Linked DNA regions of Homo sapiens: regions 1, 3 and 4 are each linked to region 2. Evidence: fine-mapped expression QTL. A gene starts in region 2. Each other region holds a variant in brackets. All regions are shown on one strand. Distances are from middle to middle. Region 1 overlaps KANSL3 (KAT8 regulatory NSL complex subunit 3). Region 2 holds the start of SNRNP200 (small nuclear ribonucleoprotein U5 subunit 200). Region 3 overlaps TMEM127 (transmembrane protein 127). Region 4 overlaps SNRNP200 (small nuclear ribonucleoprotein U5 subunit 200).

What was found.
Region 1: its variant is fine-mapped to the expression of SNRNP200 in monocytes (BLUEPRINT, PIP 0.95).
Region 3: its variant is fine-mapped to the expression of SNRNP200 in thyroid (GTEx, PIP above 0.99).
Region 4: its variant is fine-mapped to the expression of SNRNP200 in whole blood (TOPMed, PIP above 0.99). The same link has a PIP of 0.9 or more in blood mononuclear cells, lung, sun-exposed skin, tibial artery and tibial nerve.

What each region holds. Positions count from the first base shown.
Region 1 is chr2:96,611,817-96,619,382 of GRCh38, forward strand. It overlaps KANSL3 (KAT8 regulatory NSL complex subunit 3), which reads right to left. Exons shown (of 21, transcript NM_001115016.3): 5 at 7,543-7,566; 6 at 1,672-1,803; 7 at 1,002-1,118; 8 at 646-747; 9 at 466-537. Among named protein-coding and RNA genes, the nearest start is that of KANSL3, 23 kb to the right of the region's middle. The variant C/CA (reference allele first, on the strand shown) is at 3,349.
Region 2 is chr2:96,302,613-96,310,178 of GRCh38, forward strand. It overlaps SNRNP200 (small nuclear ribonucleoprotein U5 subunit 200), which reads right to left and starts at 2,934. Exons shown (of 45, transcript NM_014014.5): 1 at 2,781-2,934; 2 at 2,093-2,256; 3 at 547-718. The coding sequence starts at 2,825. RefSeq lists enhancers at 2,799-3,093, 3,343-3,422, 4,015-4,643.
Region 3 is chr2:96,243,115-96,250,295 of GRCh38, forward strand. It overlaps TMEM127 (transmembrane protein 127), which reads right to left. Exons shown (of 4, transcript NM_017849.4): 4 at 5,400-7,181. Among named protein-coding and RNA genes, the nearest start is that of TMEM127, 19 kb to the right of the region's middle. The variant CAAG/C (reference allele first, on the strand shown) is at 4,680.
Region 4 is chr2:96,280,629-96,288,194 of GRCh38, forward strand. It overlaps SNRNP200 (small nuclear ribonucleoprotein U5 subunit 200), which reads right to left. Exons shown (of 45, transcript NM_014014.5): 25 at 7,235-7,341; 26 at 6,811-6,929; 27 at 6,378-6,532; 28 at 6,060-6,249; 29 at 5,683-5,856; 30 at 4,552-4,712; 31 at 3,730-3,957; 32 at 3,185-3,376; 33 at 2,907-3,085; 34 at 2,573-2,724; 35 at 1,186-1,294. Among named protein-coding and RNA genes, the nearest start is that of CIAO1, 18 kb to the left of the region's middle. The variant C/T (reference allele first, on the strand shown) is at 3,989.

The DNA of each region.
Region 1 (7,566 bases), 310 kb after region 2:
TTGTTTTTTAGGTGGGAGAACAGTATGGTACTTATGTTTAGAGAAAAAAAGGGATCTTTTTTTTTTTTCCACAGATATATACCCATATGTGTGTGTGTGTGTGTGTGTGTGTGTGTGTGTGTATGTGAAAATGCTATTATATTTGGGATTTTCTTCAAAACAATCTAGGGGAGAAAGAAAATGAGCAGGGTGAGATGAAACAAGCCCAGCCAAGAGTTGATCACTGGTAAAGCTGGGTGAGGATCCGGGGGTTTATTATACTACACCTGCTTTTGTTTCTGCTTAAAGTTTTCCAAAATAAATTAAAAATTGTTTTAATAAAATTTGTCTTCTACAGTTTAAAATGTAATTATATAGGTAAAGTATCTAGCGCAGAGCCTGACACACAGTAAAGGACTCAATGGTAGCTATGATTAGTGGTATTCCATCCCAGGACAACCTCCAAATAAGATAGAAATTACTTACATGACAGGCCACCAAAGCTCCTGTGTTCCAGCCAATCAAGATAATGGGTTTGTGTGGGAAATGGCTGTGAATCTTCATGGGAAGAGAAAGAAGACAGTAAGACAGGAGGCCAAAGATAGGTGCAGAACAACCCCAGAATGCTGGGTATGCCACAATGTACTGAAATACGGGCATTCTCACCTCCAGCACTTTGCTTCTCACTGCCCCAATCATATGCTCGAGACACTGTAGAACTCCTACCCCACTGCCATTGTTCAGCAGATGGGTGGCTACAGGGATGACCTGAAGGAAAGAAGTAGCCCCCACACCAGCAGAGGTAAGTTTCAAATCTTTCAATTCTGTTTAACCTAACCTAAACCCAAAACCTTGGAATTCCACATGAAAGAAGGATTAGAGGAGGCTCCACATGAAAGAAGGGTTAGAGGAGGCTCCACATTCAAGTTACCCATTTTGACCTCCTCCCACATATTCTTCTCCTCAATCCTCCAAGACTATATTCCCTGCCAGGAAGGAGTTCCTCTTGCCCCCACACATACCTTGCCCAAGCAGGACAGCTGAGATTGCCAGAAGCGGTGGCGGCGTGAAGTGGGAAACACAGAGCTGGAGGGACCAGAGGAGGCGATGAGAATCAGCGGAGAGCCAGGGAGTTTGCTCTAAAGAGGAAGAATCCCACCCAAAAACCAGTGAGTGAGAAGTGTCCTTTCATGAAATTCCAAGTATCCCAATACCTTTCTCATCCCAACCAATGCTCCTTTGCTTGTGAAATTATGTTAAGCACTATGTAAAATAAATTATTAATAATAGTTAAAGAAGCTGGCCAGTCATGCTGGCTCACACCTGCAATCCCAGCACTTTGGGAGGCCAAGGCAAGTGGATCACCTGAGATTAGGAGTTTGAGACCAGCCTGGCCAACATGGTGAAATCCTGTCACTACTGAAAATTAGCTGGGCATGGTGGTGCATGCCTGTAATCTCAGCTCCTCAGGAGTCTGAGGCAGGAGAATTGCCTGAACCCAGGAGGTGGAGGTTGCAGTAAGCTGAGATCGTGCCACTGCACTCTAGCCTGGGTAACAGAGCAAGATTCTGTCTCAAAAAATAATAATAATAATAAATAGTTAAAGAAGCCATTTATCCTCCTGCCAAGGTTCTAAGGCTTGAGTCTAAAATTTTTATGTACCATTGTTAAGTCCTGAGCCATCCAACTTACTGGTTTGTTATGAGAAAGCACACCCACAGCAGGGTCCCAGGGCCTCTTCAGTAGGAGAGACAAGGCCTCAGCTCCTGCAGCCCCAGTCTTTGTGTTGGATGACACAAGCATCCGGTCAATCAAGGTTGGGATCTACAAAGAAGAAAGAGCAAAGATGACTCCAGTGTAAAGCAGGAGACCTTCCACCACCAGCAATCAAGCAGAAGAACAGAGCCCCACTATAAGCCATAGACAGACTTCAACTAAGCCTCTGAAAACCTCCTAAGGATCAAGAATATATATAAATAAGCGGGTGAAAAGTATGCTCCCACCATGAAAAGTGAATGTGTACAATCCTTTGGAAAGCAGTCTGGATATGCAGCAAGGGACTTAAATGTATTCCCATCCCTTTTCCAAATGTTTCTACTTCTGAGAACCTTTCCAAAGAAAACGTATCAGAAACAAAAACACACACAAAAGGATGGGGACAATTATGCACAGAGACAAATTAACTATGAATAATAATAAAGTAAAAACAATTTAATATATATGTGCATATGTAAGGGAGTAGTTTAGTCAACTATCTACCTAATTGGATATTAAAGATTATTTTCGAATATTTACAAGAATTTATTTATTTATTGAGACAAAGTCTCGCTCTGTCGCCCAGGCTAGAGTGCAGTGGCCTGATCTTGGCTCACTGCCACCTCTGCCTCCCGGGTTCAAGCGATTTCTTGTTTCTCAGCCTCCCAAGTAGCTGAGATTACAGGCGTGCACCACCATACCCAGCTAATTTTTTGTATTTCTAGTAGAGATGGAGTTTCACCATATTGGTCAGGATGGTCTTGAACTCCTGACCTCAAATGATCCACCCGCCTCAGCCTCCTCAAGTGCTGGGATTAAAGGCATCAGCCACTGCACCCAGCTTTCAAATATTTACAAGGATATATAATAACACACAGAAATAATTTTGCTAAAATGTTACAGGTAAAATAGAAAATATAAAGATTATCTCTACTCAAAGCTGGGCTCAGCGACTCATGCCTGTAATCCCAGCACTTTGAGAAGCCAAGGTGGGCAGATCACTTGAGGTCAGGAGTTCGAGATAAGCCTGGCCAACATGGTGAAACCCTGTCTCCACTAAAAATACAAAAATTAGCCAGGTGTGGTGGCGCACACCAGTAATCCCAGCTACTTGGGAAGCTGAGGTCCGAGAATCACCTGAACCCGGGAGGTGGAGGTTGTGGTGAGCCAAGGTCATGACACTGCACTCCAGCCTAGGCAACAGAGTGAGACTCTTCTCAAAAAAAAGAAAAAAAAAAAAAAGAAAGAAAGAAAAAAAGAAAAAAATTATCTCTACTCCCCTAATGCTAAATGACGAGTTAATGGGTGCAGCACACCAACATGGCACACGTATACATATGTAACAAACCTGCACGTTGTGCACATGTACCCTAAAACTTAAAGTATAATAATAAAATTAAAAAAATAAAAAAAGATACATTAAGTGGGATAAAACAGATTTCTAAACAATGAATATAATAGAATCATATTTTAAAGAAAATATGCTGCACACCTGTAGTCCCAGCTACTCAGGAAGCTGAGACACGAGAATCGCTTGAACCCAGGAGGCAGAGGTTGCAGTGAGCCAAGAGTGTGCCACCGCACTCCAGCCTGGGAAACAGAGGGAGACTGTCT[C/CA]AAAAAAAAAAAAAAAAAAAAAAAGACAAAATGTTAATAATGATCTCTATGGAGTTTATGGGTGACTTTTTCCTTTACAGATTTCTATGTTCCCTAAATTTCCTCAATGAGTATCAGTTGATTTTATAATATTTTTAAATCTCCATTTTCTTCTAGAGTACTGCCTTCAAGCTGTGGTGTACTAAATAAATCTGTTATTATGTACAAAAATATATATCCTGCTATACTATATACAGTGTACTTTATCTCATGTCTGTTTTTTACTATCTACCAGAAATGTGACATTACAGATGTGCAAATATAGGTTTCAGACATGTTGATGCTTACACTGAGAAGAAATATCTGCGAATTCCATGCTACCCACAAAAGGTCAAAATGACCTAGGGGAAAGGAAAAATGTTTAAATATTAGAGGCAGTTTTCAGAGAAAGAAAAAGGTTTTGAAAAATTGGAGAATAAAAAGTACTACGGTTTGATGCAAGTTGTAAAACTCCAAAAATAGCAGAAGATAAGTTGCTCTTAATTTAAAAACAGGGACACTAAAAGGATTTCTGTATGAGAAATTAGAGAATTATAACCATTAGACTTTCTCAGTTTAACTCAGGAAAGAAATATTCGTGCAACTGCTTTTACAAGGTACCAGGCTAGTACTGCAGAGGAATTTAATCTACAAGAGGTAAGGAAGACAAACACACAAATAATGGTGGGGGACAGGAATAGGGAAAGACCGATAACTGCCATGAAAGAAACAGAAGCCCAAACTGCTATGATTCAAACCACCCAATGGAGAAGAAGTTAAGAGGCAATTTTCATCTAAAGATACAGCATGTGAAATGAGACAGGCTCTTTGGAACAGGCAGGATTCCAACAGAAGATGAGAGAAAAGCCTTCCCATCAGAGACACCAGCAAGAGGCAAGAATGTGTAGAGCTTATTCCAGGCACAGATGGACAAAAGTCAAGGATGCAAGTAAGGAAGGAGGAGGATGTAAAAAGCCAGTAGGAAGGATAGGACCAAACCGCAAAGGATAAGACCAAACTGCAAAGGATCTTCATGTTCTTTGTAACTCACTCTAGAACTGTGAGCCACTCAACACTTTGAGGCAAAGGATGTGACCCTGGGTTAAGCTTTATCTAACAGTAGTATATAGCTTTGAAACCAAAAAGCCTTGACACTTGCTTCCTGTCAACAAGGGATAAAAAATCAATACTGACTTTTCCACTTGGAGCTGGGAAGACCAAGCTTCCCTGGCCCTTCCAGCATTGCATTCACTCTCAACAGCCAATTAAAAGGCTAAGGTCTATACCTTCTCTGCCCTCTTTATCATAATGGATCTAATAGTGAAAGTAGCTGGGTGAAGAGCATGATCCCATCCACCTGCGCTTTCACATCCAGCAGGCACTTTAAAAGTAAAACAATCCTATAATCATTTATATCCTTTGGGAAACAACCAAAGTATTTGTTGTGAATCTAAATATAGTCATGGGAAAATAAGAGTCCGATGGCAGAGGAACCACTGCGGAGAGCACAGCCCAGAGAGGATGTTGCCTTGAGTCTGAGGCCCTTGCTGACTGGTGTACCAGCGAGCCTTCCACTATTCCAGTCAACCCACACCGTGGCCCAGCAGCATGGGAGGAAAACACCCAACTATGCATGCTATGGAGTCCCCCCAGTGGTCTGCCATGCTCATAATATCCGACATGCACCCAGGAGATGTCCAGTCAGTAACTTAAATAGGGCAGCAGTACAAATTCCTCCTTAAAGGGAAATTATGCTAGCCACAGTGAGTGAAGCAGGGTCACCAGAGAACTGAGACCCTGGCCACTACCAACACTCATCTCCTACAGTGTATTCACCAATGTTACACTTTTACCGTAGGTAGAATGCTGAGGAGAACATATGTGAAGATGCCTACGATACTTCTGGGCCACCACTCTCTGTCTGCCAGGATCCAGTCTGGGCCCCACACTCTACCTGCCCACCACTCACCTCCCGGGTCCAGGGTTTCTACTACAGGGGAGCAGTACAGGGGAAAGTCTGGGACTCCCTTTTCATTTGTCTCTTTCTTCACTAGAAAATACACTCCACCAGAGAAGGGACCAGTTTTGTTTTGCTCACCCCAGTACCTGACACACGTAGGGCCCAAAATAAGTATTAGTTAAACAAAAAAACTAGTGTCAAATTTCCTACCATGAATATCATTAATGTATCTAGTCCTGAGTTTTATTTCAGCACTAAACCAGTCTTCTAACAAACTTGGCACCCTTTAACTTAAAAACACATAAGAAACAATGAGTCTGCAAGTTTTGGGGATGTGGCTGAGGGAACGTGTTGGCCAGGCAACTTACAGCAGCAAGATGAGCCAGCTTCCTGTGAAGCAGAAAGTAAAACTATTAAAAAAAAAAAAAAAAGTGTCAAAAACTGAATCATGCTTATGCCTGTAATCCCAGCAATTTGGGAGGACAAGATGGGAGGACTGCTTGAGGCCAGGAATTCAAGACGAGCCTATAGCAAGACCGTCTCTACAAAAAAATTAAAAATTTAGCTGGGTGTGGCAGGGCACGGCAGCTCACGCCTGTAATCCCAGCACTTTGGGAGGCCGAGGCGGGCGGATCACGAGGTCAGGAGATCGAGACATGGTGAAACCCTATCTCTACTAAAAATACAAAAAAAATTAGCTGGGCGGGGTGGCACACGCCTGTAGTCTCAGCTACTCAGGAGGCTGAGGCAGAATTGCTTCAACCCAGGAGGCAGAAGTTGCAGTGAGCCGAGATCGTGCCACTGCATTCCAGCCTGGGCGACAGAGTGAGACTTTGTCTCAAAAAAAAAAAAAAAAAAAATTTCTTTGCTGGGTGTGGTGGTAGCACACACCTCTAGTCCCAGTACTTGGGAGGCTGAGGCAGACGGATTGCTTGAGCCCAGGAGTTCGAAGTTATAGCAAGCAATGATAGTGCCACTGCACTCCAGCCTGAGTGAGAGAGGAAGATCCTGTCTCCAAAGAAAAAAAAAAAAGGCCTCAGACAACTTGGATTGATTTGGTTCTTTCTCTTCTCTCTCTCTCTCTTTCTTAGAGACAGGGACTCCCTCTGTCACCCAGGCTGGAGTGCAGTGGTGGGACTGAACTCACTACAGCCTCCTCCCACCAGCCTCCTAACTAGCTGGGACTACAGACGTGTGCCACCATGCCTGGCTAATTATTTTATTTTTAGTAGAGACAAGGTCTTGCTATGTTGCTCAGGCTGGTCTCAAACTCCTGAGCTAAAGCGATCCTCCTGCCTCAGCCTCCCGAAGTGCTAGGATAATAGGCATGAGCTACTATGCCCGGCCGTGAGGCCATTTTGTATTGGAGCAAAACACCCCAAATATTTCAAGAACCTATGAGGGTACTACTTAAATAACTGTTAATATTAGTAATAATAATTACTGTGGGCTCACTGCTTACTATGTGCCCAATTTTGTGTTAAGCCCCCTACCTGAATTAACTAATTTAATTTTCATAAAAATCCTAGATAGCTATTATTATCAGCCACATTTTAGAGATGAGACACCAGTCCAAGCTTACACAGCTAATCAGTAACAAAGCTGAGATCAGCCAGGCAATCTGCCTCCAGCATCCGCATTCTACCACATTGACGATAGCCTGATGCAATCACTGGAATCACCAAGAAAAACAGTTTAACTTTGTGCAATACTAAGTAAGAAAGCAGGGAACTATAATGATATGTTTGTACTGAATTATAAAAGTCTAAGTGTTGCTACTAAAGGCTCATGCCCTGGGGAGCAGAATTGAAGGCATCACGGCACGTTCCTGCTCTGCAATCTCCCAGTGCTCCGAGCACCAAGGGTCTGCTTCTGTCACCTTTCTCAACAAACTCTTCCCTGGTAAACCCTTCGTCTCCTTCATGATAATTCAATTCAGCCATGACTCAAACCACAAGCTGCAAGGCTAGGAAGGCTAAATGTATACTCTGGTTTTCAGGCCCCATACCTCATCCTGGAGCCAGCAGGGCTGAAAACGTTTACACCAGACACAAATGTGAAATGATACCCTGTCTCCCAATTTTAGTACCAAACCCATTAGTTTTGGCCATGCACTCCAGACCGACCAGATAATTACTTTGCCTAACCCCACATCCTGAACCCACAGGGGAGGATGGCTATCCCTAGGACAGGGCAGACCCCAATCACAGCCTTACCTTCCCCTTCAGCGTCTGCAAAGC
Region 2 (7,566 bases):
CAGACTGAGGACTCAGTCGCACAAGCCTGCCTCCCACTTCATGATGCCAGTCACAAGCACAGGTTGTTTGACCTGTGCTTCTCACTATACAGCTATAAATCGAGGTTTCCACAATCCCCTTTTGGGGTTCAACTAATTTTCTAGAGCAGATCAGGGAAACACTTATTTTTACTATAAGGCATATTACAAAAGATGCCTACCAAAAGACAACAGATGGAAGAGGTACACAGGGCAGGCATGTGGGAATGGGTGTGGCGCTACCAGGCCCTCTCAGGCGCACCACCCTCCAGAAACCTCCATGTGTGCAGCTATCCACAAACTCTCTAAACCTAGTCCTTTTGGGGTTTTTATGGAGGCTTCATTATGTAGGCATGATTGATTAAATGACCAGCCTCCATTCTGAACTACCTAAGTGCTGCCAGCCATCAGTCAACTCATCAGCATACAAAAAGATACTTAGCACTTCGAAGATTCCAAGGATCTTAGAAGCTGTATGCCAGAAAATGAAATAAAGACCTAATATATATTTCACAATATCACACTCACCTGGTCCCCAAGAGCAGCCTGGATGAAGCTGAGTAGCACCTCATAGGTCTCCCGAGTCTCTTTAGTTTTGGGCTTGTAGATGATGCCCACCATCTCATCAATGCCCTCCGACAGCAGAGTATAACCCTTCATCTTGTTGATGTCATGCCGGTCCTCATCACGCTTTCTTCGCCTAATGGACATGCAATGTGATATTGAATGGCAGAACCTTTCGTCCCCAAGGGAAGACTGGATCAAGCCCACCCTCCTCTCCTCAGCTTCATGGCAAGAAGTTAATATCTGAAAACAGGTATCTGAGCCTCAGCAAATGATTCCGTTTGGCCTTAATCACTTGCAGGAGTATTTCTTTATGGGACACAGTGACAAAAAGAAAAATTCCCTATCATCTTCTCACTAGATGCACTAAACATTACAATGAGATGTTTCTCATTTAAAAAATACAACCCTTTGGCCAGGTGCAGTGGTTCACGCCTGTAATCCCAACATTTTGGGAGGCCAAGGCAGGCGGATCACCTGAGGTCAGGAGTTCAAGACCAACCTGGCCAACATGGAGAAACCCTGTATCTACTAAATATACAAAAATTAGCCGGGCACAGTGGCGAGCGCCTGTAATCCCAGCTACTCAGGAGGCTGAGGCAGGAGAATCGCTTGAACCCGGGAGGTGGAGGTTGCCGTGAGAGAGATCACGCCACTGCACTCCAGCCTGGGTGACAGAGTGAGATTCCGTCTCAAAAAAAAAAAAAAAAAAAGTACAACCCTTCATACATTGTATGAGACTATTATATAATAGGATTTTGACTAGTTTTTCACCTCTCCAATGCATTTTCCCTTTCTAGCTAGAGAACCAAGCTCTAACAGAATCTACTGCCGTTGACTATCAACAAAGTATAACAAAACTGGAAAAGAAGATATAGCACAAAGTGGAGATAATGTATTAACTCATTTCAAACATAACTACTTTAATCAAACTAAGCCTAGGAATTTTGGAAACTTCATCATAGGAAAGGGAGCAAGACACCAAGATATTCAGGATCAAAAGATAATGATGAGGTAAAGGTAAGTTTTTGAAACATATCCCCAAGAAATCTTAAAAAAAAAAAATAAAGGAAAAAAATGCAAACTAAGAAAGAAACCTGTCTTTCATACTATGGATGCTTAAATTAGTTTGTTACAACAAAATAGGTAGAACGTGGACAAGAGTAAATGGAAAAAGTAGGGGTAGGAAGTTAGTAATGGGAAAAAAGGAAAACGAATTACTGGGACATAGGAATAGCAAGGGTCTTGAAAATACCCTGAAGAAAATTAAGATCTGTCTATGGACCAGAAACACACATGTAAGAAAAAGGTACCAACAAGTTATTTTCCACTTGAGATGCACTTGTTAAGGCCAAAAAATCTTTAAACTCTCCTGGTCTGTTTTTACCTTCACTGAATTGTTTTAATGCCACTGATCTTACACCAAGCATTCCAGCAAAAATGCTGCTCGAATGTTAAAGGGAAGAGACTTTGGATCTGAAGGAAAAAATAGTATCCCCTTGGCACTCACTTGGCTCTTCTTTCCTCCTGCATCTGCGGTTTGGTCCGTTGAGCCTTGTCTCCCATACGGGTGCCCTCCAGCTTCCCAACAAGGGACAGCACCTCTCCTGTGGGTTCATCCCGGCGGGTCCGGTCAATGAGAGAACGGTCAGCTTGGAGCACAAGATTCGAGTTCTGAAAAGATCAAAACATTATTGAAGCTTTGACATGAGCAGGGCCAATTCCTACTATCATAGTTACCCCAGCTGATGGAAAAAATCGTAGTAACTAGTTGCTTATCATCACTAATCGTAATAAAAATATATTTTCCTTAAGAATTGCATAGTATAACGCTGTGCAGAAGCGTACAGCTGAATAAGTCTTATGCGCTGTCGAATCAGCTAAACAATTCTTGTTCCTAACAGCGCCCATCATAACCCACACCTGTGAAAAGTAGTGAGTGGGTTGGGAGTGACGTGTGGAAGGGGGAGGGCTTAGCGTTGAAGGTACTCGAGAAACTCCTCCTAGAGAGATCTTAGCGCTCCCCAGACCCCAGTAGGTTATTCACGTCATCGTATAACCCCCACCTTCACCCCGATTCCATTTCCCCTTCGTTTTCGTGGCTCTCCTGTAGGCCTTCAGACTGAAACTCCCTTTTTCAGCCTCCCCCTCCCCATTGGACTCCTGAGCCTGGAATCCTTCCCCAAGACCAAACGCACCGCCTTGTACTCGTATTGCAGACTACGGGCGGTTACATCCGCCATGGCCGCGGCTGCTCGGAGGCTTCAGACCACCACGCCTCCCTACCGCAAGCTGCAAACGGCCGCAGATCTCTGCTCCCGCCGCGCCGGAACGACGCAGGAAAGACGCACTGGGGAAGGAAAAGAAACGGGTTCCCTTCCGCTTCCGGGTCGCGCCCCAGAAGTGCGGGGCGGGGCGTGTCTGGGGCGTGTCCCTGCCGTGTGCGCGCGGCTTTCCGCACCCTTCTGAGCGGGATATGTGGGCCTGGTGCGTCTGGGTCCCCGAATCCCTAGACCCCCGCACTCTGGTTCTGGCCGCCCGCTGGCACTAAGGACCCAGGGCCCGTGCTCTCCCCGACCTCAGTCTCCAGCCCCCGGCACCCCTCACATCATAACGAATGCACGGCTGCTTAGCCCCTGTCCTGTCCCAAGACCTTTCCTTCCGGTTCCTTCCTCTTTGGCAACAGTCCCATGAGGTAGGCAGGAAAAGAGGGGCCGAAAACCCCATTTCCGTTTGAGGTAACTAAAGTACCCAGCGAGCAAGGTGACTTGCGCGTGTGTCTGTGTTTGTGTGTTTTAATGATTGGCGCCTTGCTTTGGGTTTCTCTTCTGTGTTCAACAATTGAAAAAGAAAGCTACTATCCCCCACCAATCCCACCTAAACCTGTGCCCCCAAGACCCTCGTTTTCACCCAGCTGAACGAACAGGGCCGGGGCCCCCATTTGCTCCCACTTGTCGGTAACATTCTATGGTAGGGCCCTCCCTGCCGCCCAGGGAAACCGGTGAAGGCAGGGCCAAATCCTTGGTGACTATGACTTAATTTCTTCCCCAGCTACAAAGTCTTCTCTGTCCCACATTCCCCACCACTTCTCGCCAGTAGAATGGCGCCTTATGGCTGAAGGTGACCTCCCTCCTCACTTAGAGCATGTTTGCTTTTGAGAAGATGAATGAACAGGAGGATGGGTGTTAAGCCAAAGGAATTCATCCTCAATAGCAGTCCCCTAGACCAGATTTGTTCTGTAGTGGTATCGTGTTTGGCTCACTGTTGGCTCCTTCTTTAAAAATTGGGATAATTTCATGCAAACTCTGGCTCTCCCCCATCAGTTGAGATACTAGAAAATCAGCCACATGACACCCACACTGCTGCATGGCATGACCTGCTGCTGGTCAGCAGCTGCCAAGGTCAGAGAATAGGCAAGTCCTTCCCACTGCTCCTGTTTTCTCATGCCTGCCCATCTCCTTATTTTTACTTGCCCAGCCCCTGTAGGCATGGAGTTTGCTGCTTTGGTGGGTGTTTGTTTTTTTTTTAATAACTCGTCTTCCCAAGGGACAGTCGAGTCCTCATGGCTCTGCTCCTCAGTGGCTGTGTGACTTTGAAGTAGCTAGCTACCTGGCCTCTCGGTGAGCACCATTTTCCTCATCCTTAAAATTGAGGCAATTGGCTGGACACGCTGGCTCACGCCTGTAATCCCAGCACTCTGGGAGGCCAAGGCAGGCGGATCACTTGAGGTCAGGAGTTTGAGACCAGCCTGGCCCACATGGTGAAACCCTGTCACTACTAAAAATACAAAAATTAGCCAGGCGTGGTAGTGGGTGCCTGTAATCCCAGCTACTCAGGAGGCTGAGGCAGGAGAATCACTTGAACCTGGGAGGTGGAGGTTGCAGTGAGCCGAGATCAAACTCTGCACTCCAGCCTGGATGACAGAGTGAGACTCTTTGTCTTAAAAAAAAAAAAATTGAGGCAATAAAACCTTCCTCCCATTGTGATTAAATGGGATAGTGTGTTTAAAAGCACCTAGCAAAGTGCCTGACTCAAGGTGGGGTTCACTGAAAGTTATTGAAATCTGAATCCTTAAGGCTGACTTTTATTCCATGATCAGGCTGTGGCCCACCCACCTGACACGAAAGGGTCTCAAAGGTATTTCGGAGATTCCACTCTGTTTCTGTAGAAGTAGCATTCATGTTCACAGATGCAGCTGGGCTGTGGGCAAACCTGTGAAGCAAGAAAAAAAGGAAACTTTCCCCATCTTTTCTTTTCCTCTCTAATCAGGCTCTACCAAATGTAAATCCTGCATTTAGTCATTCAGATGGACTTATAAGTTTCCATAGTATGTTAGACCTGGTAGGAGCCTTAGAGATGGAGTAGTCTGGTTCCCTTATTTTCCACAAGAGGAGACTGCAGCCCTGGAACAATCGTCACACTAAAATGTAAATAAGGAAGAAAATAATTATGATTTTGAAAAGAAAACAACAGGCTGGGTGTGGTGGCTCATGCCTATAACCCCAACACTTTAGGAGGCTGAGGAAAGAAGATTGCTTGAGGCCAGGAGTTTGAGACCAGCTTGGGTAACATAGTGAGGCCCTGTTTCTACAAAAAATTAAAAAGTAGCCAGGCCTGGTAGTGTGTGCCTGTAGTCCCAACAACTTGGAAGGCTGAGGCAGGAGGATTGCTTGAGCCCAGGACTTCAAGGCTGCAGTGAGCTAGGATTGTGCCACTGCACTCCAGGCTGACCCACATAGCAAGACTCTTCCCTCAAAAAATAAAAACAATTTTTAAATTAAAGATAGAAAAGAAAAATGACAGCCGTGCTTCCTCACTCTGCGGAAGGGGCTCAGGGAAACTTCCTGGGCCAACTTGTTGAAAATGGGGGAAGGTGTCTAGTGAAGACAAGTCAAAGGAGTCACTGCCCCACATGAGAAAGGAAAGAGGAGCTGGGGTTAGACTGGGATGTAGAAAAGGGAAGAGAAAAGTCTTCAGGAAGCAAGAGAGGCCCAGGAAAATGACAGTCAGCCAGGACCTAAAGGAGCCACAAGCAAAGAGAAATTTATTTTACTTTTTTTTTTTTTTTTTTGAGATGGGGGATCTCACTGTGTTGCTCAGGCTGGAGTGCAGTGGCACGATCATGGCTTACTGCAGCCTCAATCTCTTCAGGCTCAGGTGATCCTTCTACTTCAGCCTCCCAAGTAGCTGGGACTACAGGCACACACCACACCCAGCTAATTTTTTGTATTGTTAGTAGAGATGGGGTTTTGGCATGTTGCCCAGGCTGCTCTCGAACTCCTGGGGTCAAGCGATCCACCCACCTCAGCCTCTCAAAGTGTTGGGATTACAGGCTGAGCCACCTTTCCTGGTCTGGGCAAAGAATTTGAACAGACGTTTCTCCAGAGAAAATATACACTGGCCAATAAGCACATGAAAAAATGCTCAACAGCCATGCGTGGTGGTTCACCCCTGTAACCCTAGCACTTAGGGAGGCCGCGGCGGGTGGATCACGAGGTCAGGAGTTTGAGACCAGCCTGGCCAACATGATGAAACCCTGTCCCTACTAAAAATACAAACATTAGCTGGGCGTGGTGGCGTGAGCCTGTAGTCCTAGCCACTCGGGAGGCTGAGGCAGGAGAATCACTTAAACCCAGGAGGCGGAGGTTGCAGTGAGCTGAGAGCATGCCATTGCACTCCAGCCTGGGCAAAAAGAGTGAACCTCCATCTCAAACTAAATAAATAAATAAAAATAAAAATTAGCTGGGCATGGTGGCACATGCCTGTAATCCCGGCCACTCGGGAGGCTGAAGCAGGAGAATTGCTTGAACCTGGGAGGCAGAGGTTGCGGTGAGCCAAGATCGTGCCATTACACTCCAGCCTGAGTGACAGTGCGAGACTCCTCAAAAAAAAAAGAAAGTTAAACATAGAGTTACCCTATGACCCAGCGATTCTACTCCTAGGAATCTACCCAACAGAACTGAAAACATGTCTACATAAACATTTGTACACAAATGTCCATAGCAGCACTACTCACAATAGCCAAAATATTGCAACAACCCAAATGTTCATCAGCTGATGATGGATAAGCAGAATGTGCTATTTCTATACAATACAATATATTATTCAACCACAAAAAGCAATGAAGTACTGCTGTGTGCCACAACATGAATGAATCTCAAAAACATATTAAGGCCAGGGACAGTGGCTCATGCCTGTAATCCCAACCCTTTGGGAGGCTGAGATGGGCAGATCACTTGAGGTCAGGAGTTCAAGACCAGCCTGGCCAACATGGTGAAATCCTGTCTCTATTTTTTATTTTTTTATTTTTGAGATGGAGTCTTGCTGTTGCCCAGGCTGGAGTGCAGTGGCACAATCTTGCCTCACTGCAACCTCCACCTCCTGGGTTCAAGCGATTCTCCTGCCTCAGTCTCCTCATTAGCTGGGATTGTAGGTGCGCGCCACCACGCCCAGCTAATTTTTGTATTTTTAGTAGAGACGGGGTTTCGCCATGTTGGCCAGGCTGGTCTTGAACTCCTGACCTCAGGTGATCCACCCGCCTCGGCCTTCCAAAGTGCTGGGATCACAGGCGTGAGCCACCAAGCCCAGCCCCCTGTCTCTATTAAAATACAAAAATTAGCCAGGTGTGGTGGTGCACGCCTGTAGTCCCAACTACTTGGGAGGCTGAGGCAGGAGAATTACTTGAACCTGGGAGGTAAAGGTTGCAGTGAGCCGGGATCCTGCCACTGCACTCAAGCCTGGGCGACAGAGTGAGACTCTGTCTCAAAAAATATATATTAAATTAAGGCCTGGTGCAGTTGCTCACATCTGTAATCCCAGCACTTTGGGAGGCTGAGGCTGGAGGATTGCTTGAGGCCAAGAGTTTGAGACCAACCTGGGCAACATAAAGAGATCCCTGTCTCTACAAAAAAAAAACAAAATTAATTAGTTGGGCATAGTAGTGCACACCTGTAGCCCCAGCTACTCAGGAAGCTGAGGTGGAAG
Region 3 (7,181 bases), 60 kb before region 2:
TGAACCCAGGAGTTGGAGGTTTCAGTGAGCCCAGATGGCTCCACGGCACTCCATCCTGTGCAACAGAGTGGCACAGGATGGCAAAAACAAACAAAAGCTCTTAAAACTCAACAATAAAAGACAACCCACTTTAGAAATGAGAAAAGGGCCAAGTGTGGTGGTAATCCCAGCACTTTGGGAAGTTGAGGTGTGTAGATTGCTTGAGCCCAGGAGTTTGAGAGCAGCCTGGGCAACATGGCAAAACCACATCTCTACAAAATACAGAAAAGAAAAAAAAAAAATCAGTCAGGTGTGGTGTTGCACACCTGTAGTCCCAGCAACCTGGAGGCTGAAGTGTGAGGATTGCTTAAACCTAAGGAGATAGAGGCTGCAATGAGCTGCGATTGTGCCACTGCACTCTACCTTGGGCAACAGATGAAGACGCTGTCTCAAAAAATAAGAATAAAGAAAGAAAGATGGGAAAAGAATTTATTTCTTTCCTTTTTTTTTTTTTTAGACAAGGTCTGGCTGGTCCCCCAGGCTGGAGTGCAGTGGTGCAATCTTGGCTCACTGCAACCTCTGCCTCCCAGGTTCAAGTGATTCTCCTGCCTCAACTTCCCGAGTAGCTGGTACTACAGGAGCAAGCCACCACACCCAGCTAATTTTTGTATTTTTAGTAGAGCCGGAGTTTCACCATGTCGGCTAGGCTGGTCTCGAACTCCTGACCTCAAGTGATCTGCCCACCTCGGCCTCCGAAAGTGCTGGGATTACAGGTGTGAGCCACTGAACCTGGCCTTTTTTTGCTGCTGTTGTTGTTCGTTTTGTTTTGTTTTTGTTTTTGTTTTGAGATGGAGTCTCGCTCTGTCACCCAGCCTGGAGGGCAGTGGCTCAATTTTGGCTCACTGCCACTTCTGCCTCCTGGGTTCCAGTGATCCTCCTGCCTCAGCCTGCTGAGTAGCTGAGACTACAGCCGAGACACCACCATGCCTGGCTAATTTTTTTTTTTTAAGTAGAGATGGGGTTTCAGCATTTTGGCCAGGCTGATCGTGAACTCCTGACCTCAAGTGATCTGCCCACTGCACCTGGCCTTTTTTTCTTTTTTTTTTAATAGAGATGAGTACAATGGACTTTAGGGACTCAGGGTAAAGGGTGGGAAGGGGGTGAAGGATAAAAGACTACACATTGGGTACAGTGTGCACTGCATAGGTGGTAGGTGCACCAAAATCTCAGAAATCACCACTAAACGACCTATTCCTATAACCAAACACCACCTGTTCCCCAAAAACCTATTGGAAAAAAAAAAACTCACGTAAGTAAATAAATAGAGGCCAGGAGCAGTGGCTCACACCTGTAATCCCAGCACTTTGGGAGGCCGAAGTGGGCAGATCACCTGAGGTTGGGAGTTTGAGACCAGCCTGGCCAACATGGAGAAATCCTGTCTCTACTAATAATACAAAAATTAGGTGGGCATGGTGGCACATGCCTGTAATCCCAGCTACTTGGGAGGCTGAGGCAGGAGAATCACTTGAACCTGGGAGATGGAGGTTGCAGTGAGCAAAGATCACCCCATTGCACTCCAGCCTGGGTGACGAGCGAAACTCCATCAAAAGAAGAAAAAAAAGAAAGGAAAGAAAGATGCGGTCTGGTGGTGCTGCCCAGGCTGGAGTGCAGTGGCTATTCATAGGTATGATCATAGTGCACTGCAGCCTCAAGACTCTTGGGTTCCAGTGGTCCTCCTGCCTCAGCCTCCTGTGTAGCTGGTACTACAGGCTACAGCTAAACTGCTCAGTTCCTCAGTCCTTCTTCATCTCCCACAGTGGATACAGAGCGTGGCAGCCCCCTCTCAGGAAGTCATGGATCTTTATGGCTGGCAGGACTGTAAAGTCACCCAGTTCAGCCCCTCATTTACATATAAGGAAACAGTCCTATAGAGAAGGCGTGCCTTTTTAAGTCACACATTTGAGCAAATAAATAATTATCTCCTCACACATTTAAGATTGCTATTACATCCTTTTCTCTAGAACTTTTAACCTTTCATCCACTCAGAATGCTTGCCTGGACCCTCTCCAATTTCTCAATATCTTTCTTTTTTTTTTTTTTTTTTTTTTTTTTTTGGAGACGGAGGCTTGCTCCGTCACCTAGACTGGAGTGCAGTGGCATGATCTTGGCTCACTGCAACCTCTGCCTCCCAGGTTCAAGTAATTCTCCTGCCTCAGCCTCTCAAGTAGCTGGGATTACAGGCGCCCACCACCACGCCCGGCTAATTTTTGTATTTTTAATGGAGACGGGGTTTCACCTTGTTGGCCAGGCTGGTCTCAAACTCCTGACCTCAAGTGATCCACCCACCTCAGCTTCCCAAAGTGCTGGAATTACAGGCGTGAGCCCTCGCGCCCAGTTCAACATCTTTCTTAAGTGGGCCCAAGGTTGGGGGGAAAATCTCACCGTAGAGATATTTGTTAGATATCGAGCATGTGCTGAAGAAGGCATCTGTGATGATTAATTTTATGTGTCAGTTGGACTGGACCATGGGGTGCCCAGATATCAGCTTGAACATTACTCTGGGTCCATCTGTGAGGGCGTGGGGTAGGACTGGCATTTATGTTGGTGGAGCAAGTAAAGCAGGCTGCCTCCCTAACGCAGGGGATCCTCATCCATCAGCTGAGGGCCCAAATAGAACAAAAGGCTGAGTTGGAGGGCGCCCCTCCTGCATGACCAACTTTCAAGTGGTGACATCAGCTTTCTTCCTGTTTTTGGACTTGAACTGAAACATCAGCTCTTCCTGGATCTTCAGCCTGCTGGCCTTCAGACTAGAACTACAACCTCGGCTCTCCTGGGTCTCGGCTTGCTGACTCACCCTGCAGAACTTGGGACTTGTCAGCCTCTACATTTGTATGAGCCAATTCCTTATAATGTCTTTCTGTATATATACATATATCTCCACATCTTATTGTTCTGCTTCTCTGGAGAACCCTGAGTAATACAGCATCATTCCAAGATCAGCAGAAATGTTAGTGCTTCTGGGGAATTACTGCAAAGGGTACCTGAATAGCAGCACATGCTCTCAGTACCCCCGCCTTCTGTTGTCTGCTGTTGCCTGCTCCCTCCCCACCCTTTGGGTTGATTTCAGGATAGAGATATGGGGATGGGACTGGGGTTGGGTGTGCGGTTACCCAGAACAGCCAGGATGTGTGCACGCTGTGACCCAGGAGCATCAAGCACTGCTCAAGCTGCTTGGAAAAGAAAACAAAAGTCAGGAAAGTGAGGAGCTGGGAGGGTGCTGGAAAGGAGCAGGAAGAAACGGGCAAGGGTAGGAGAGAAGCAGAAAAAACAATCCCTGAGACAGAGCTGGTGTAACCAAGGCTCTGTTTCCCCCACGGTTTGAGAGTGGGTGAGCCTGACTTCAAGGCCCAGCTCTGTTCAAAGATAGGACACTGATTTTCTTCAAGAAGGCAGAGCTGGTGAGTGGCCTCATGTCTTACCATCATGGAAAGGCGAGGGCTGGGGGAGAGAGAAGGGGCAGCCAAGGCCTCAGAGTGGTGTAGGCCTCACCCTTGTGCTCACATGTCCCAACCACTGCCAGCGGTGCCACCTCTGAATCCCAGACCCCACATGTAACCATCCTCTACCTGGACCACAGGAGGAAGCTCCACGTTCTTTGCCAGGGTTCAGGGTAAGGGGCATGATCTAAGTTGGGCAAAAGAGAGTCATCCTGTTACCTTAAAAAGGAGTCTAGGGTGAGCCCCAGTCTGCTGGTGGCCATCTTCACCACCTTTGGGGAGAGATGGCCTGAGCAGACACACAAAGCAAAGAGGTGGAGAGAAACTGTGTCTTTGTGTCATTGTTTGAGTCCCTGGACCCAGCCCAGTCCCCCCGACTACGCTGAACTTTTCAATTGTGGAAAACAATAAATTCCATTTAGTTAAGAAATTTTCAGTTCTGGGTCTTGCAGCTGTGAGCATTCTGACAACCTTGATGTTCCAGGCCCTCCTGGGCTAGGTCCATGAGCTAATTGCTTGCCCTGCACCTCCAGTGGGAAGGAGCTGCTCACATCAACTCAGTGTTCCCCAAAGCCACGCCCTTCCTTTCCTGCTTTCACACCACTGCCTACACCATGCTCTCATGAAGGCCTGCCCCTTCTCCAAGGCCCAGATCAAGTCTCTTCTTTAGGAAGTGTTCCTTGGCTATCACGTTTCGGTGTCATCAGGTTTCCTCTTTCCTGGTGGCTGGATTGGAAGGCCTTAGAGGGCAAGGATCATATGTGTTAGAATTTCTGCATCCTCCACAAGGCACTTGTGTTCAGTGTATTTGCTGAATGAATGTCACATTAAAAAGCGTGACCCAGCCGGGTGTGGTGGCTCATGCCTGTAATCCCAGCTTTTTGGGAGGCCAAGGCAGGCGGATCACCTGAGGTCAGGAGTTCAAGACCAGCTTGGCAAACATGGTGAAACCCCATTCTCTACTAAAAAATACAAAAATTAGCCAGGCATGGTGGTGTGCGCCTGTAATTCCAGCTACTCAGGAGGCTGAGGCAGGGGAATTGCTTGAACCCAGAGGTGGAGATTGCAGTGAGCCAAGATCGCACCACTGCACTCCAGCACTCCAGAGCGCACTCTTGTCCACTCGCAACAGAGTGAGACTCCACCTTAAAAAAAAATAAAAACAACAACACGACTCCTGGCCTAATGGACTGATAAGGTAAA[CAAG/C]AAGAAAGACACAGGCCTGTACACATAATAGAAATTGGGTGTGTACCAGCCTGGGCAACATGGCAAGGCTCTGTCTCTGCAAAAAATAAATTAGCCAGAGGTAGTGGCTCACACCTGCAGTCCCAGCCACTCAGGTGGCTAAGGTGGGAGGATCACTTGAGCCTGGGAGGTTGAGGCTGCAGTGAGCCATGATTGCAGCACTACACTCCAGCCTCCAGACAGAGCAAGATCCTGTCAAAGAAAAGAAAGAAAAAAGAAAAGAAAAGGAAGGAAGGGAGGGAAAGAAAGGAAAGAAAGAGAAAGAGAAAGAAAAAGAGAAAAAAAGGAAAGAAATTGCATGTGTGTACATGCAAGCAAATTTCCCATACCCCGTTAGAATATGAGGAAGCAAACAGATGGAAAGAATCAATAACGGGGCAGGGCGCAGTGGCTCACCCCTGTAACCCCAGCACTTTGGGAGGCCAAGACGGGCGGATCACCTGAGGTCAGGAGTTTGAGACCAGCCTGGCCAACATGGCAAAACCCCATCTCTACTAAAAATATAAAAATTAGCTAGGCATGGTGGTGCATGCCTGTAATCCTAACTACTTGGGAGGCTGAGGTTGGAGAATTGTTTGAATCGGGGAGGTGGAGGTTGCAGTGAGCCGAGATCTTGCCACTGCACTCCAGCCTGAGCAACAAAGTGAGACTCCGTCTCAAAAAATAAATAAGAAAAAATGAATGAGACATTCTTCTTTTATTAAAATAAAACCCATCCACCACCCCAAGGTTATTCCAGAAGGAAACTCTCCACCAATAGTGGTGGCACTAGACATATACTGAGAGACCCCCAAGAGGGAAGTGAAGCCATGGGGGCATCTGGGGCTACATGGTCTATCTCGCTACACAAGGAGGCCCTTTACAAGGCTAGCTGCCATTTTCTACCAAGACAGAAGGACAGGAACCTTCCAAACAGGGCAGCCTGCAGGCCCTGCACCTTCAGGCCCCATTCTCAGACACCTGTACAACCCCTTAAGCCAGACGGACTCACAGCTGTCTCTGGAAAGTTCTTCGTTACCTGACTCTTTAGACACAGGGTTGGCTGGAGGGGCCTCTCCCTCATCTTGTACATCTTATGAAGCCCCTTACCACCCACTGTGTTGCTGTCCCACTCAGCTGAAGGGGCTGGCCAGTCCCGCATAAACCCTCCAGCTCTGAGATCAGCCAATCTTCCCTGGGCACTGCTCTCTCCCCCAGCAAAAAAGCCAAGAATTTTCCCCAAAGCTTATGGTGAGGAACCTGTGTGTGTGTGTGTGGTGTGTGTGTGTGTGTGTGTGTGTGTTTGAGATGGAGTCTCACTCTGTCAGGCTGGAGTCCAGTGGCATGATCTCGGCTCACTGCAACCTCTGCCTCCCGGGTTCAAGTGATTCTCCTGCCTCAGCCTCCCGAGTAGCTGGGACTACAGGCACCTGCCACCATGCCTGGTTAATTTTTGTATTTTTAGTAGAGACGGGGTTTCACCATGTTGGCCAGAATGGTCTCGATCTCCTGACCTTGTGATCCACCCACCTCGGCCTCCCAAAGTGCTGGGATAATAGGCGTGAGCCACCGCACCCGGCCAGAACTGATCTTAATTCTCAAACCAGTAACCCTAATGAAGCGTCTTCGTTTCAGGTGGGCTCATTCAAAACGACATTTTCAGGCTTGGTGCAGTGGCTCAAGCCTGTAATCCCAACCCTTTGGGAAGGGAGGCAGAAGGATTGCCTGAAGCCAGTAGTTTGAGACCAGCCTGGGCAACATGGTGAGACTGTCTCTACCCACCCCCACAAAAAAAACATTTTCTCTTCTCCACAAACCTCCTGCCTCCCATTAAAATGTCACTCCCCCCAAAAAATGCAGAGGAAGAGGTAAGATTGCAGGCTATTTGAAAACAGGGGCATGAAGTTTGTCAGTTCCCTTCTGTCTCCCCATAGCATCTGTGTTCCATTAGTGTAGTGGCTGAGAGCGTGGATATTTCAGGCAAGATGCCAGCTGAAGATTCTCTAGTCATCTTGGGAAAGCCGCCCTGCCCCAGATGCACCACCTCTTCCTGTGTCCCAGGGTCCTCTCCTTGCGGCCCTTCACATCCCATGGCTTCTCGTGTGCGGGCCCCTCTTCGCCTGTGCAGTTGATGCCACCTTCCAGCTGCCACGTGACAGGTGGGCAGAGACTGGGGCTCCCGCATTCCCAACTCCAGCACCTGGCTGAGACACTGGGCCCTGGGATTGACTGTGACCGCCCTCTTCCCCTTTGGCAGGTCCTGTCTCCCACTTTCAACACCCTCACTTAAGGCCAGGCAGAACCCTTCCTACTGTCACCAGTCATTAAAATAAGGTTGCATCCCTCCCTTCCCTTCTGAAAATCCTTCCTGGGCTCCTTCTGCTGTTAGTGCCTTAAATGAGCACCCCTCACCTTTCTAACCTCGGCTCTTACCACCTCCTGGCCACCAGTGTGCTTTTGCTCTTGCCATTCTCTCAGCAG
Region 4 (7,566 bases), 22 kb before region 2:
AACCTCCGCCTCCTGGGTTCCAGCGATTCTCCTGCCTCAGCCTCCCAGGTAGCTGGGATTACAGGCGCGTGCCACCACACCAGGCTAATTTTTGTATATTTAGTAGAAACAGGGTTTCACCACATTGGCCAGACTGGTCTCGAACTCCTGACCTTGTGATCCACCCGCCTTGGCCTCCCAAAGTGCTGGGATTACAGGCATGAGCCACCACACCTGGCCCTTTTTTTTTTTTTTTTTTTTTTGAGACGGGGTACCACTCTGTTGCCCAGACTGGAGTGCAATGGCGCGATCTTGGCTCACTGCAACCTCTGCCTCCTGGGTTCAAGTGATTCTCCAACCTCAGCCTCCCAAGTGGCTTGAATTACAGGTGAGTGGCTTGAATAACAGGCACCTGCCATCAAACCTGGCTAATTTTTGTAGAGACGGGGTTTTGTCATGTTGGCCAGGCTGGTCTTGAACTCCTGACATCAGGTGATCTGCCCACCTTGCCCTCCCAAAGTGCTGGGATTACAGGTGTGAGCCACCACACCCAGGCTTTTTTTTTTTTTTTTTTTTTGAGTTGGAGTCTCACTCTGTTGCCCAGGCTAGAGTGCAATGGTGGGATCTCAGCTCACTGTAGCCTCTGCCTCCCAGGTTTAACTGATTCTCCTGCCTCAGCTTCCCAAGTAGCTGGGATTACAGGCGCCTGCCACCACACTCAGCTAATTTTTGTTATTTTTAGTAGAGACGGGGGTTTCACTATGTTAGCCACACTGGTCTTGAACTCCTGACCTCAAGTGATCCGCCCGCCTCAGCCTCCCAAAGTGCTGGGATTACAGGCATGAGCCACTGCGCTCGGCACTCCTCTAGCTTCTTACTTGTCACTATATAGGTGTATGACCTCGACCAAGTCACTTTTCCTAATCTACAAGATGTCTGAGATTAATGACGTAACGTCAAACATTCCTCCTGGCTCTAATTTCCTACCTCTCCCAGCTGCTGAATAAGGAAGCACAATGACTAAAAAGCAAATGTGAGCCTAGGTATTGAGACACAAAACTCTCAAACACTTGGCTCTGGTGGCATCTCAGCTGTTAACTTCCCTAACACCTTTTCTTCATCCTAGCTTACTTTCTGTGTATCTGCAGATTCACATTCATTTTAGGAAGGAGGTCTGTGCTAACACAGAGCACCAGTTGTACTCACGCGTGGATCTTGCCATTGTAGTACTGGGTATCCATGATGATTACCAGGTGGGCAGCCACGTTCATGCCCCAGCAGAGACTCCGAGAAGCCACCACCACCTGGATAGCCCCTGAGCAGTAGAGGGGAGAGGAAGGCTGAGGGCAGGGGTCTCCGGGTGAAGTAGGCTCACTGCCTCATGGGCAGGCCGTGGCTTACCCTGTGCTATGTTTCAGAACTCACAGCAAGGCTGGCTAGGAACAAGGTCTAACATGAATGAGAGCTAACACATTGCTATGAGGTAGCTCCACGCTGCTGGTGCCTTGCTCTGGGACTATCCAGGAGAAAACAAGTCATCATAGAACAGAACCCAAAGCCCAGGAACACCAAGGCAAAACTACAGCTGATGGACTGCTCCTCTGACCAGAAAGTGCTAACACTCATGCAGCCACGGGCTGGCTCAGCCATGCCAGCAAAACAGAGATCACTCTAAGCATGCCCCAAACAGGCAGATTCAAGGGCCAAAGAGTGACAGGAAGTGATTCTGGCAGAAGAATCTCCAATGAGGCTCCAATAAACAGTATTAAAACGTAAATCTTTGCACAAAATGCCACAGGGCAACAAGAGACAGTGGCCAGCAAGAGTGAGCTCAAGGGAGAATCAGAGCTCTCCTCTGTGCTAATCTCTAAAGTCTAACTATCTTGGTGAGACGGTTTGGATCTGTGTCTCCACCAAATCTCGTCGACCTGTAGTCTCCAGTGTTGGAGGAAGGGCCTGGTGGGAGATGACTGGCTAATGGAGGCAGAGTTCTCATGAATGGTTTAGCACCACCCACCCTTGGTACTGTCTAGTGAATGAGTTCTCACGAGATCTGGTTGTTCAAAAGTGTGTAGCACCTCCCCACTCACTCTCTCGGTCCTGACTCCTGCCATATAAGATGCCTGCTTCCCCTTTGCCTTCCCTGAGGCCTTCCCAGAAGCAGATAACACCATGTTTCATGTACAGCCTGCAGAACTGAGTCAATTAAACCTCCTTTCTTTATAAATGACCCAGTATCAGGTATTTCTTTATAGCAATACAAGAACGGACTAATACACTTGGGGAGTCTGGTATCCACGGAGAATCAGCGGTCTGGTGGCCAAAGGTCCTGGACTCTAGAAAACCAGGTTCTGAAATAGCACAACCTGATGTGTCTGCCTGTTTTCTCACCTGGCAAGTAGGGATAGTGTTTGTCTCACCTGCCTCACGAGGTTCTTGGGAGGATCAAATGAGTTAACAGCCAAGAGTCCTAAACAGTATTTTGAAAATCTCTGGTATGCTGTAGAGAAAACACTGCCACCCGCACCCCTCAAGTTTAACACCACCACTTGGTGATACCCTTGCTATGCTCCCCTTCCGTGGCCTGACTTACCTGAGCTGAAGAGCTGCTCCACCAGGCGTCGCTCCATGGGGCTGAGCCCCTCATGCAGGTAGCCCACCCCATTTAGCAGCGTTTCCTTGAGCGTGCTGTCACTTAGCTTCTCCAGGTACGGAATCAGATCCTTCTCGGTGCAGTGCAAGAACCTGTGCGGTACAGGCACTGGCTCAGCTCAGAGTAGTTCAATTCCTGGCAGACACTTTGCCAGCTGTGCAGAACCTGGCCCCAAGCAACATGGGCTAACCCCACCCTCATAAAGAGGACACCCTTGGAGTAGGCCAGCCTCACTTAACCTAACCCCAACCCCCAGACGCCAGGCCCCACCTACCTCTGCCGTTGGATGTCTGCTGCACAGGTGGTGAGGATGTCAATGGCAGTGAGGCGGGTCTGCTTGCGAGACGGCACAAAGACAATGACAGGCTTCTTGGGCGAGTGCTTGGTGATAGCATGGTACACAGGCTTGGCCATGGAGAGCAGGCGGGTTTGTGTATGGCTGATGTTGAAGCCCTGGCGACCGGGGAGAAGAAAAGACACCAAGGTTATCAGACCTGGGTCACTCAGGATCTATGTGACACCCCACAGACGGATGAGGAGAGTGGGTCCTACCTGGATGTGCAGCTCCAAGGGGACGGGACGCACATTGGGATGGAAGTTGAAGGTGGAGGTGGCACTGCAGCCCAGCCAGTGGGCCACATCCTTGGCATTGGAGAGCGAAGAGCTGAGTGCCACAATGCGAATGGGCCGCTCAATCTGGGAGGAGATGTAGCGCATTCGGGAGCAGATCACTTCTAAGACAGGCTGGAAAGAGGGAGGGAGGGAGGGTCACTGCAGGCCAAGGCTCCCATCCTCTGCCTGGAGGTCCCCTTTGTGAACAGCCCAACAGCCTCAAAATGACCTCATTCTTCCTTCTAACTAGGAGCTCTCATGTGTTTGGTTCTACCTCCTCCACGGCAGCCAACCTCCACTAAACAATACTGTTTTCCTAAAGTACTACCAAAAAAGTTAACATTGTCCCTTTGGAATAGGGCAGCAGGTAGAATCCTCTGGGGAGAAGCCCCGAGCCTCCGTCCTCAGACCCAAACATTAGGTCCAATGCCAAGGCCACTTGGTCAGTCCCAGTCCCTCATCTGTGCTGCAAGGTCACGCCATACCCCATTCTCGCCCCCGATAAGGTGGACCTCATCCACCACGAAGAGGTTGATGTTCTGCACGTTCTTGCGCTGCTTCCATCGCCGGGAAAGTATGTCCCACTTCTCAGGGGTGCTGATGATAATGTTCCCTTTGCCCAGCAGCTTCAGGTCTGTGCTGGTCTCGCCTGTCAGGAGTACCACCTTCTTGTTGAGCCTGTCCTGGAACTTCTCGTACCAGTCCATGTATACCTGGCGGGCAGAGGAGGGAGGCAGAACAACA[C/T]TAGGCCATACCAGGCATCTTTCACTTATGTGAGGAAAACCTGAGATGCCAAACAGACCTGTTGACCTGCAGATCTCAAGCTACGTTCTAATCCCATAGCAGCCTCTATGCGATGCGATGGGGCAGCTTTTTCTTTTTTTTTTTTCTTTTGAGATGAAGTCTCGCTCTTGTTGCCCAGGCTGGAGTGCAGTGGTGCGAACTTGGCTCACTGCAACCTCCGCCTCCCGGGTTCAAGCGATTCTCCTGCCTCAGCCTTCCAAGTAGCTGGGATTACAGGCGCACACCACCACGCCCAGCTAATTTCTGTATTTTTAGTAGAGACAGGGTTTCACCATGTTGGCCAGGCTGGTCTCGAACTCCTGATCTCCGGAGATCTGCCCGCCTCGGCCTCCCAAAGTGCTGGGATTACAGGCGTGAGCCACCACGCTTGGCTGGGGCAGCTTTTCTTTAATACACAAACTGAGGAAATGACCCTGCAAATTTCAGGGCTTAGAAAGCCTTCATACGGAATCACAGATGAAATGCTTCTTGGGAAATTCACATGACACAGCGCCACGTCATACCTGCTCTGCCAGGGCCTCCATGGGGGTGATGTACACACAGCGCCCCTCCGAGCTCTGCAGCAGCATTCGCAGGATGGCAAACTCTGCACAAATAGTCTTCCCGCTGCCCGTGGGGGCCCCCACAAACACGTTGTCGTCACTGTTGTATACAGTGTTAAACACTGGAAACCAACAGAAAGAAGCAGTGTAAGTATCAAGAAGGAAGAAGAGACGGACTGGGACATGGATCAATTGTCAAAACAAAGGACAACATACGAAATGAAGTCAGGCAGTTCTGGAGTGCAGACAGAGGAGCTAAGGCATCCAAGCCTCTAACTCCAGGCCAGCCCTACTGTACCCCCTTACCTGCTCCCACTTAACAGTTAAAGGGGAAGAGGCCAAGATCAAGAGCCCAGGTCCCCTGGAGATGTGTGGGATGACAACAAAAGCAAAGCAAAAGAAGCCACACATTCTTCTTTGCTTCTCAGGGACTAGGATGCGGGACAGAAAGGAACTGGATCCCTTTCTCTGCCCCTTCAACACTCTCCTGCGTTTCCTAGAAATAGCCTAAGGTAGAAAGTAAGAGCCTTATCCCTGGCATCAAGACTGAATTAAAATCCAAGTTCTACTATTTATCAGTTGGTTCAACTGGGGAACCCTCTATGCCTCAGTTCCTCACCTATAAAAGGAACACTAATGGCAGTATCTCCAATAGAGATTCCTTTTAGGCTTGATGGGAGGAATAAGAGAGAAAACACCGGTGATGTACTCAGCCATGGACTGAGGAAACAGTGCCTGCTCTGTGAATGTCCCCGTTATTTATCATGATGTGGTGAGGAGGCTTCAGTGCCACCCCATGGTTCTGGTTCAATACTTGAGCGCCAGGGGCAGGCCTCTAAGCCTCCTGGGCCCGAGAAATGACCATGCCATGTAAGGCCTTGCTCTATTGCCCCTCCACAGTGACACATGCAGAGCAGCAAAGCAACCAAAGGCTTCTGACAAAGGAAAAAGTCCTGGTGGGTCCCAGCGGTCACACTGAGGAGCTCCCAGACCTCCCAAGTGCCTGAGCACCCCCACTCCCCTGCCTGCCACAGAGCACATCTGTCTCCCGGTGACTTCAAAAGCCTCCAGAGGAGGGATGGAAACACTTACCCTGGGTCTGGATGGGATTGAAGAAAGGAAATTTATCTTGGTAAAGACTCTCAAAGGCACTGTTTCTCAGAGCAGACACGGGCAAGGGCTGCAGGTCCAAAAGTTCGGTTGGAGGGGGGTACTTCTCCGGCAAGATCAGGTGCCGGAAGGAGACAGGCAGCTGGGTCTCACAAGCTGCCAGAAAAGAAACAGGAAGGATATAAGCACTGCTCTCTTTCCCTCACTGGCCTCTAGATCCCCTCCATGAACACTGGAAACCTAGGCAGCATATGTATCACTCTGTCCCCAGCAAGGGCAAGCCCGGGACAAAGTGCAAGACATTCTTCTACTGTCCTTGGAGGGACTGTTCCTGGGGACTCTGGAGAGGAGACACTCACAGAGCCAGCGGTCAGACACCACTCGGATGAAGTACTGAGGGGGCAGCGGTTCAAAGACAGGCACGAAGAATGTAATGAGGTGCTCGTCCTGGGCGTACTTGGCCTTGAGGAGAAAATACTCATGGTGCAGAATCACCTCGCTGTCCACATCCTCCACCAGAATCCAAAAAGCCTCGGATGAACCATGCACCTGCCAACAGGAGCAAGGGTAAAAGGAATGTGAGTCAACGTAGACTGAGTGCCTCCAATCCATCTCCTCGGCCCAGCAACGTAGACTGAGCACCTCCAATCCAGCACCTCTGCCCAGCAAAGCCTCACCTTTTCATCCCACTGGAAGTCTGGCGTGATGGTCAGCTCCACCTTCAGGGTGGAGCGTGTGATAGGCTGCAGGTGCACTGACAACTCCAACTTGGGAAACAGATGGACATATTTGTGGATGGTCTTCCCCATCTTTGGCATGCGGATAAGCTCCCCTACAAGGAAATGAGAGTACTGAGGCTGCAGCCCAGCCTGCCTACTATACTGCAAACTGGGCCTGAGGGCCACTGTGGGAAAGGGGTAGGGTCTTCCCTTTATGGTCAGTGGAGCCCAGGATTCCAAGTCCCCAGACCAAGGGCCAGCCTGTACTTCAGTGGGACTTGGGGAGTGAACACAGGATACTAATGCACAGGCCTAGGAACAGGAAGACTACATAGGCAAACTGGGAGAGACACCCAGGCAGTGAGGACAAGGGCGAGAGCATCCCACACACCAATCTCATTATGATTCAGGTCGTACAGACGCTCAAAGGGGAAATTCTTCTTCTCAATCTTCTTCACTACTTCCTCAGGGAGTTTCCGGAACTGGCGCAGAGGACACATGGACTGCCACCTATCCAGGAAGGAGGCAAAGCTGTTGGTCCCTTCTGCAGGGATGTGACAAACCACCCACTTCATGGCTTCCAATAGTTTAGCAGTGACTACACAAAACACAGTCATTAAAGGCAGACACTGACACTGTGCCAGCCCTGGCCTCCACCACAGAGGGCCTTCCCTCTTCTCAATGTGCACCAAGGTTCAGGTCATACTTCCGATGTCAGGTCTGGAGATCAGATGCACCCTGAGGCTTTCCCATCAGACCCTTGGGTTGGGGACCCCCACTCATGGTGACCAGCATCCAGCTCACTGGGTCCTTACATGCGTTTGTCGATCATCTTGCAGAGGTTCAGGGTCTTGTCTGTAAGCTGTGCCCAACCTCGGTTCAGGACAATTTCAAATATCGCTCGCATCAACCGGCCAGCCGACTAAGCAAAGAAGCAGCATTCCCACTGTTAAGTCTCGACTATCCCCAGGCCTCATGAGCCACTCTACACACGGTTTCATTACCTCCAGCTCTGACACAACCACCCACCCTAACTCAAAGGCAAAGTCCCCTCTGTCTTTACGCCTTTCTCCGTTCCATATAGTAGATGCTTGCCGGATGGGGAACAATTAGAAGAGTGCTGCGGCTCAAGGTCACTGCACAACAT